Regions from separate parts of the Homo sapiens genome. Here region 1 is linked to region 2. The links come from fine-mapping of genetic effects on gene expression. A gene starts in region 2. The other region holds a variant in brackets. All regions are shown on one strand. Distances are from middle to middle.

The links. PIP is the estimated chance that this variant, and not a neighbour inherited with it, causes the effect.
Region 1: its variant is the best candidate, but not a certain one, in a credible set for the expression of C1QTNF6 in whole blood (INTERVAL, PIP 0.68).

The regions. Positions count from the first base shown.
Region 1 is chr22:37,221,908-37,226,144 of GRCh38, reverse strand. RAC2 (Rac family small GTPase 2) reads left to right here. Exons shown (of 7, transcript NM_002872.5): 7 at 106-875. Among named protein-coding and RNA genes, the nearest start is that of SSTR3, 12 kb to the right of the region's middle. RefSeq lists a silencer at 3,223-3,362. The variant C/T (reference allele first, on the strand shown) is at 1,713.
Region 2 is chr22:37,186,317-37,190,828 of GRCh38, reverse strand. C1QTNF6 (C1q and TNF related 6) reads left to right here and starts at 2,582. Exons shown (of 3, transcript NM_031910.4): 1 at 2,582-2,666. The coding sequence starts at 2,616. IL2RB-AS1 (IL2RB and C1QTNF6 antisense RNA 1) reads right to left here. Exons shown (of 2, transcript NR_199008.1): 2 at 4,007-4,512. RefSeq lists enhancers at 939-1,572, 1,573-2,208, 2,209-2,842, 2,843-3,478.

The DNA.
Region 1 (4,237 bases), 35 kb before region 2:
CTTGAGCAAAGACCTGGAGGTGGGAATGAGCTGTGAGCCAGGAAGGCGAGAGCTGTGGATTCTGCATGTCCCCAAATTCTCTTTCCCTGCTTATCTTCCTTCCAGGTTGCACCCCAGCGCTCCCACCTAGATGGGTCTGATCCTCCAGGATCCCCACCCAAAGCCTGATGGCACCCCGGCTGGCCATGCTGTCCCCTCCCTGTGGCGTTTCTTAGCAGATGGCTGCAGAGCTTCGTTGATGGTCTTTTCTGTACTGGAGGCCTCCTGAGGCCAGGAACGTGCAAATTTGCAGGTGCTGCATCCCAAGCCCCTCATGCTCCTGCCTTCCTGAGGGCCAGAGGGGAGCCCCAGGACCCATTAAGCCACCCCCGTGTTCCTGCCGTCAGTGCCAACTGCCGCATGTGGAAGCATCTACCCGTTCACTCCAGTCCCACCCCACGCCTGACTCCCCTCTGGAAACTGCAGGCCAGATGGTTGCTGCCACAACTTGTGTACCTTCAGGGATGGGGCTCTTACTCCCTCCTGAGGCCAGCTGCTCTAATATCGATGGTCCTGCTTGCCAGAGAGTTCCTCTACCCAGCAAAAATGAGTGTCTCAGAAGTGTGCTCCTCTGGCCTCAGTTCTCCTCTTTTGGAACAACATAAAACAAATTTAATTTTCTACGCCTCTGGGGATATCTGCTCAGCCAATGGAAAATCTGGGTTCAACCAGCCCCTGCCATTTCTTAAGACTTTCTGCTGCACTCACAGGATCCTGAGCTGCACTTACCTGTGAGAGTCTTCAAACTTTTAAACCTTGCCAGTCAGGACTTTTGCTATTGCAAATAGAAAACCCAACTCAACCTGCTTAAGCAGAAAATAAATTTATTGATTCAAGTTTGGAGATATCGTGATTTCAGGTGCAGCTTGATCAAGGTATTCAAATGATGTCATCGAGGCTTGTTTAGCTCTGGGCTCTGCCTTCTGCTGGCTGGTTCATTCTCAGGCAGGCGACTTAGGGCTTCATCCTCCCAAGTTCAAGTTCAGGGTTTCATCCTTCCAAGTTCAAGTTCAGGGCCTCATCCTTCCAAGTTCAAGTTCAGCCAAAAAGAGCAAATGTCTATCCCAGGCAAAGTTCTAACTAAGATTTACTGTGATTGGACCAGCTTAGGTCCTGGGCCCCCTTTTAACCAATCATATTTGTCAGAGTGGTGCAGTGCTGTGCTCTGACTGGCCAGGCATGGACCATATGCCATGCTGGAACAGAACTGCGGCAACCCCAGCGAAAGCGTGTGTACTGGGGGGGAGGGTGAGTTCCAAAGTGGGCTGAGAGCCTGGCGGGAATTTGGGAATTTGGGCGAGAAACCCTCAACCTCCACTACTGGAGGTCATGGGAAAGTGTTCATTTCAGCAGTGAAATGAAACAATGCTGGACCCCGAAGGTGATAAGCAAAGGGGAGTTTCTTTAAAAGAGAGGCGGGGTTGTTGTGAGGATTTAAGAAGTTCCGACATGGGCACAACAGTGCCTGCACAGTCAGTCCCACCTCAGGACTTGCTAAGTTCTGTGGAGGTGCCAGACCTCCCCCTCCTGCGGACAATTACTCTCCTCTATCTCAACTTCTCACTCATTCATCAAACACACATTTATTGAGCACCTCTTCTGTGCCTGGCACTGTTCTAGGTGCCAGGGATCCAGCAGTGCTCAGAAGTCCCTGCCCTCAGGAGGCTGACACT[C/T]TAGAGAGGCTAAGAGATCTAAGAGGCTGCCCCTGACAACCCAGAAGACCCCAATTTCCAGCCCATGAAATGCTTGAGTTTCCACATTGTGCTTTCCCAGAGCTCCCAGCCAACCCCACTATCCCCATTAGTCCCCATGTTCTGAGGCAGGACCCCCTCCAGCTCACTCACCTCCTGGGAGCCCCCCTTAAAAGGGATTAGGTGCAGAGGGGAAACCCCTTTGCTTTTCTTAGTTTCAGCTCAAAGTCATGATGTTTTCAAAGTTACTTCTCTTCTGAAACAGAAAGGAAATACTAAACCCCACCCATCCATGGCACCATACAGATGCAGGCGGCCAGGACCCCACTCCCTAGTATGTTCGATGTCTAAGATCCCTGAGGCACCCCCTGAGGTTGGCCAGAGTCTGAGGGAGCCTCTTTCTGATCCCTCCTCTTCACAGAGCCTTGGGATAAACTCCAGAGCCTCCGCAACAAACCATGGCCCTGAAGGTCTGGCCATCCTCTGCCTCCCACTCTTATTGCACTCGTGCCTCTACCATCAGACTGGACTGTCATTTCTTCCACTCCACATTCATGCTTCTTTCATTCCAGGCCTTTGAACATACTGGACCCCTTTCCTTTGCTCCTGGAACTTCCCTGCAGGGCAAAGGTGGGCCCGGATCTCCTTCCATGTGTGTTCAGCCCGTTAGGTCGACCCCAGTAGAGACAATCTTTGCTTCTATATGATAATAATGTCAGTAAATAACTTCCTTTACTCATTGTCTTGGCTCCCATGCACATATTATCTCATTTAATGTTCTAATAGCCTTCCAAGATAGGTACTCTTAGCCACGGTTTGCAGAAGAGGAGATGAGGATGCGGGAGGGCACAGGTTTGGCTCAAATTGACAAGGCAGATGCTGTCCTTTCCCACCCTCTCCCTCTGTTCCCATCCTCCTTGCTAACAGAATCCTAGTTTTGTGCATAGCAGCACCGTACCTAACACCAACAAAATACTCGTTTTTCCAGCTGGTTTTGTCACTGGGGTTTTCAGGCCACATAGTTCTGGCCTAGAAGCCGATGTGAATGAAAGTCAGCGGGAGAGATGGCTTCTGTGAAAGTTGTTTTCTTCCTTAAAAAAATGACAGGCCCAGGCCGGGCGCGGTGGCTCACGCCTGTAATCCCAGCACTTTGGGAGGCTGAGGTGGGCGGATCACGAGGTCAGGAGATCGAGATCATCCTGGCTAACACGGTGAAACCCCGTCTCTACTAAAAAATACAAAAAAATAGCCGGGTGTGGTGGTGGGCGCCTGTAGTCCCAGCTATGCGGGAGGCTGAGGCAGGAGAATTGTGTGAACCCGGGAGGCGGAGCTTGCAGTGAGCCGAGATTGCGCCACTGCACTCCAGCCTGGGTGACAGAGCAAGACTCAAAAAAAAAAAAAAAAAAAAAATGACAGGTGGGATGTCTGGAGCTGCAGCAGCCGTCTTGTGAGCTTGAAGCCACAAACATGAAGATACAAGGCCCCGTGCTGAGAGGGGATGAGCAGAAAGATAAAAGGAGCGTGAGTTCCTGGCAGCAGCAGTGGGCAGCTGAGCCAATGCTAACAGCTGCCTTGTTATGGGAACTGAAGAAAATGAAACCACCCAATTGTTAATGTCACCGTTGGTCACACCTTTTGTTACGGTAAGCTGACAGCATTTGTCACTGAAGCGGTAGGACTCCTAGCGCAGTGCTCTTCCCACTGTATAACTGTTCCCAGCAGCCACTCCAAGTGGGGTGAGCCACTTGTTTCTGCTCTGCAAATTGGCTGAGGATGGAGGCCCCTCATATAGGAAAGAGAAAGCTTATGGGAAGTCAATGAGAACCTGTTTTGAAACAGGAAGACCTGCCGGTTGTGGGCAGGAGCTGACACCATGGTTTGCTCTTTCATGTGACAACAACCCCTCCCAAGTGCCCACCTAGTGCCAGGCCTGGGCTGGCAGCAGGTTCCATGCCTCACTTCGCCCCTTCTTGCAATGAAATCATGGCCTGGTGGTTGAGGAAAGTGCCTGCCAGACAAGGCCACTTCATCTGGTGCTTTCTATTCTAGAGACTGGCTGTTCCTTGTCCCTTCTTCAAAGCGGAGGCCTGGGGTCCCCCAAACTCCTCCGATCCTTTCACCCTGGCATTCACTGGCCACCAAGCTTGGACAATTCAGCCTCTGTCTATTAAATCCACCCCTTGTCCCCACGGCTGCTCCCTAACCTAACCCCTGCCATGTCTCCCCTGGACAGTAGCCACAGCCTCCTCACTGGCCTCCTGTCTTCCCTCTCTCTGCCTCTACTCCATTTGCCACCAGGTGGCCTGGGGATTTTCCTCATTTACAAACAACTGTGCAGTCAAAAATGCTGATAGAACCACAGACTTATTCAATCATTGAATCCTTCAGCAAATAGTTATTGAGACCGTGTGTCAAGCCCAAGGCTTGGGGGTGGGTCAAGCATGAGCCCGCTCTCAGGAGCTCACAGGCCAGTGGGGAGGCTGTCCAGCCAGCAGAGAGCCCCAGGA
Region 2 (4,512 bases):
AATTTGGAATATGTTTTTTTCTCTTTACCTGATTTCTGCAGAATTTGGAAACTATTTGTGAGTGTTCTTAACTTACGGCAATATAGTTATTTGCATAAGTGCAGTAAGAATCTGTTTTTCCTTCTTTCTTCTTTTTTTTTTTTTGTAACAGGACACAATTGGAGAAACTGGTTATTTAACAAGGGTTTGACTCGAGTGGCATGCTTTCAAATATAAACAGACTTCTTTAAGGAATTAAAGTTGACTAATAGAGCCAATAAAAGCCTCTTGGAAAAACTGGTCTTGTACCTTGTGTATGAAGTCCCTGTATAGGGTTCCTGACCTGTGGTAAGTAAAGAATGTAACTTTCTGACAGGCCTGGGAGCCCCGAGTTATCTCGGGACCTCAAGAGGAGAGGAATTTATCTAACTCATACAGGTTCTTGCAGGCATAGGTAAATCCATGGCTGGGCTCAAAGCTTTAAAACATCTAATCTAAGATACCTTATGAAACAAAGCCAATTTTAAAAGGAGCCTGTATGGCAAATAATTATACTTGCTGCACTTTATGCAAATAATGAAGCCAAGTATAATAAGACTAAAGCTTATTTTGCAAATAAATTGGTCCTACCATGATTTGTTTTTAATAAAAAATGGGAGACTGGAGAGAGAAAAACGGTGTTTCAAAAAATATGGTACACCTGTCATAGATTCTAGTCTCATCCATTGTTTTTGAGTTTTTTGTCTGCAATTTAGACTGACCTTGCTTCTTTCTGTGAACCAAACAGTCATCTCTTGACTGCTTCTCGTCAGAAACAAGAGGGATGGATAACATAAAAATCTGGATCAGTATCTAATTCTGAGCATGTATTGGAATCGTCTAGCAACTCCGTATCAGCTCATCTAGCAATTCCTGTGACTAAGAATGCCTAACCTCCTGGGAATGCAGCCCAGTAGGTCTCAGCCTCATTTTACCCGATAAGTCACAGGCATTCTTGCCCAGTTCATGGAAAGCCTTCTTATTTGGATTACTTGGGATAATTTTACTTATTTTACTTTGCTGTTGTAGAATATATTGCTGCTATACTCTTTGTGTAAGAATGCAAGATAAGCTTACTCAGTGCTTCCTTAAATTGAACACATTAATCTTCCAGATATCACCTTTTGTTAGGACTCAGAGTTACAAATGACTCTGAACACACCAACATTTTCTTACTCAGTTCCTCTCTGCACCAAACCCAAGAGACTCTAATAGTTAGGCAGGAATATCATCGCCTCTATTCAGCCTGAAGAAGTTACAGAAGATGGATCTTCATGCCTCTACAACCCTTAAGATTAAACGTTCCCTCGTAAAAGAGAGTAGGGAAATATGTCAGAGGTGTTCAAAATAGGGCAACTCCATCTTGAATAGGGGCTGGGTAAAATGAGGCTAAGACCTGCCAGGCTGCATTCCCAGGAGGTCAGGCATTTGTAGTCACAGGAAGGGATAGGAAGTTGGCAGGACTGGTATCACAAGATACAGGTCATCAAGACCCTGCTGAGAAACAGTATGCGGTAAACAAACCAGCCAAAACCTGCCAAATCTAAGATTGCAATGAAAGTGACATCTGGTCATCCTTATTGCTCATTGTATGTTAATTAAAATGTGTTAGCTTGCTAAAACACACTTCTACCAGCACCAAGACAGCCTACAAATACCATGGCAATGTCCGGAAATTACCCTATATTGTCTAAAAGGGGGAGGAAGCCTCAGTTTCAGGAAATTCCCACCCCTTTCCTGGAAAACTCATGAATAATCCACCCCTGTTTAGCATAGGATCAAGAAATAACTATAAAAATAGCCAACTAGCAGTGCTTGGGGGTGCTCTGCCTATGGAGTAGCCATTCTTTTGTTTCTTTGCTTCTCTAATAAACTTGCTTTCACTTTGCTCTGTGGACTTACCCCAAATTCTTTCTGGTGCAAGATCCAAGAATTCTCTCTTGGGGTCTGATCAGTACCCCTCTCTGGTAACACTTGCATGATACCTGAGGAGGTCAGCCTGGTCATTCACCCAACAAACATGGGTTAAGCCCTCCCATGTGCCTGGCACAAAGGGGGCTGAGGACTGCAGTTCTGGAACACCTAGGCTCTGAGAGGCGACGCGACTGTGGTAGCAGGGCCAGGATTCTAGCCTGTGCCTGGAGGGCCAACACCTGCACCTTCTCTGCTACCCACCCTGCCTCTGTGACTCAGAGCAGTTAAGCACTTTAGCTCAGGGTGGACTCAGGGCTGCCTCCCCCTTCCTGAGCAACCTAGGGGCTCCTGTGCCCCATGCCTGTGTCCATTTCCCAATCATCAGGGGGCCTCAGACTCCTGCCTGCTCTGACTTTCTAGGCCTTTGAATCAAGCAAGACCCCACTGGATCACCAAAGAGTTAAGCAAAGGAAATCCCTGCCTCCCTTTATCTCCGCAGAACCCAGAGGCTGAAAGGGAGGGAGCAGGGAGGAGGGGAAGTGGGAAGCGGCTCTGCCCTCTCCCTCCGCCCTCCCTCCGCCCTCTCTCCCTCCATCCCCTCCTCTCTCCCTCCTCTGCTGGGCCTGGGGGTCTGGGCCAGCAACAAGTTAGTATTGCAGACATGGGCCAAGGAGCCAGAGGCCATGCAGTGGCTCAGGGTCCGTGAGTCGCCTGGGGAGGCCACAGGACACAGGGTGAGTGACCAGAGGCTCCTCAAGCTTGGGGGCTGGGGTCAGAGCCTGGAATTCCTCTCCTCCCTCCTTGCTTCCTGGAAGCATCTCGGGCCCTGCTCTCTCCCTCTGACTGGGACAGCCTCTCCAGGCTCTCCCCTCCACATTTCCTCCTGCCTCTGGCTGAGGGCTGCGCTCCACTGCTCCCGGTTTGTGCCCGCCCCTACCCGGGCACACACAAACTCAGCTCTGCACGGCCTGCCTGGACCGAGAAAAGTTGCCCTGCCGCTCCCTCCCCAAAGAGGTCCCAGTGGAAGCAGCAAGGACCCCAAAAGTCCTCCCTATGACTTGGTTCCCACACTTGGTCCCTGCCTGGCACCCACCCCCAGAGCTAGTTCGTGATCCTGGCTGTGGTTATGATTCCTCGTTAACGGCTTCCTGATTCCTGCTCCCAGGCCACGGTTCTGTGTCTCACAGCCTTTGACTCCCATCCGCTGGGGCCAATAGGAAACAGAAATGCTCCCAAACCATGCCAGTCCTCTGGGAGAAGTTCTCCTTCCCATCCCATGCAGGCACAGGGAAGAAGTCAAAGCACACTTTTTTTTTTTTTTTTAAGTCTTTTATAAGGCAGGCACTTTTCCTGCATTGAAATCCTTCCAAATTACCTGGGAGGGAAAGGGTGGTGTCATTTCCTTGTAAGTATCAAGGAGCAGGAAGCCCAGAGAGGTTCAGCCACTAGCCCTAGGTCACACAGCTTGCAAACTATTCTGGGTCTCAGATTTGACTCTAAGACCTCAGCTTTTCTCATGAGGTCATATCTGTGGCTGGGAAAAAGAAGGGAATTTTGGGATTTCCAAAACCACTGGGATTTGTCATTTATAAGTAAAAGTTGAGGATGACAGTCTCAGACAGGGAGGATGTTGATCTCTGAGGATTTGACCTCCTTATTGAGCAGAACCAGGAACCCAACCAGGGTGGGCAGAGAGAAGCTTGGGAAGAGTCACCTCCAGGAAGAGGGAGGTGGCTCTGGAGACTTCCTGTCCAGCCCCCTTCTCCTGCTGCTACCATCCAGCTCTGGGGGTGGGGGGCAGGGCTCCTGCCGCTTTATTTATTTTTAGTTTTAATTTTTGAAAAATAGAGACAGGGTCTCACTATGTTGCCCAGACTGGTCTCGAACTCCGGGACTCGAGTGATCCTCTCTCCGTGGCCTCCCAAAGTGCTGGGATTGCAGGAGTAAGTCACTGCACCTGGCCATCCTGCCCCTTTAAAACTCTGCCCTCACCTCAGTGCTCAGCTGAGACAGGGTGGCATTTTAAAAAGTAATAATTGTACCTTGTCTACATGTATTAACCACAAAAAAAATATTTTTGAATTCTACTAAATGTTAAAGGAGAACAAAAAGGAAATAAACAAAGAAACGCCAGAAGTGTAAAAACCAGTCTGGTTTCAAAAGCAGAGTTTCTGATCCTGTGATAACTCGGCACCAGCCCCCAGAAGCTGCACCACCTCAAAGGTCTTTTTGCCCGGCTTCCTGCCCACCCAACCCAGGACTGTCTCTAGCGCCTGGTGTCCAGGCTACTTCCTGCCTCTCTCCTGGAGCCCTAGACCCCTTCTTGGCCAAGGCCAGAGACAGATCCTCACCAACACTTACACTTTTCTGATCCTTTAGAATTTTTTATACCTCCTAGTCCTACCCCTTAATTCCAATTTACCACCTTGGCATCTGATTGGCAGGTCTACGATGATTGACACAACCATCTTCCAATGAACTAACTCTCTCTACAGAACCCTCCCTGCAGGGCTTCTGGATAAGGTTGGGTTGCATAGATAGTTGACTGCACAAAGGTGCTGAGCAGGGAGGTGGACTAGC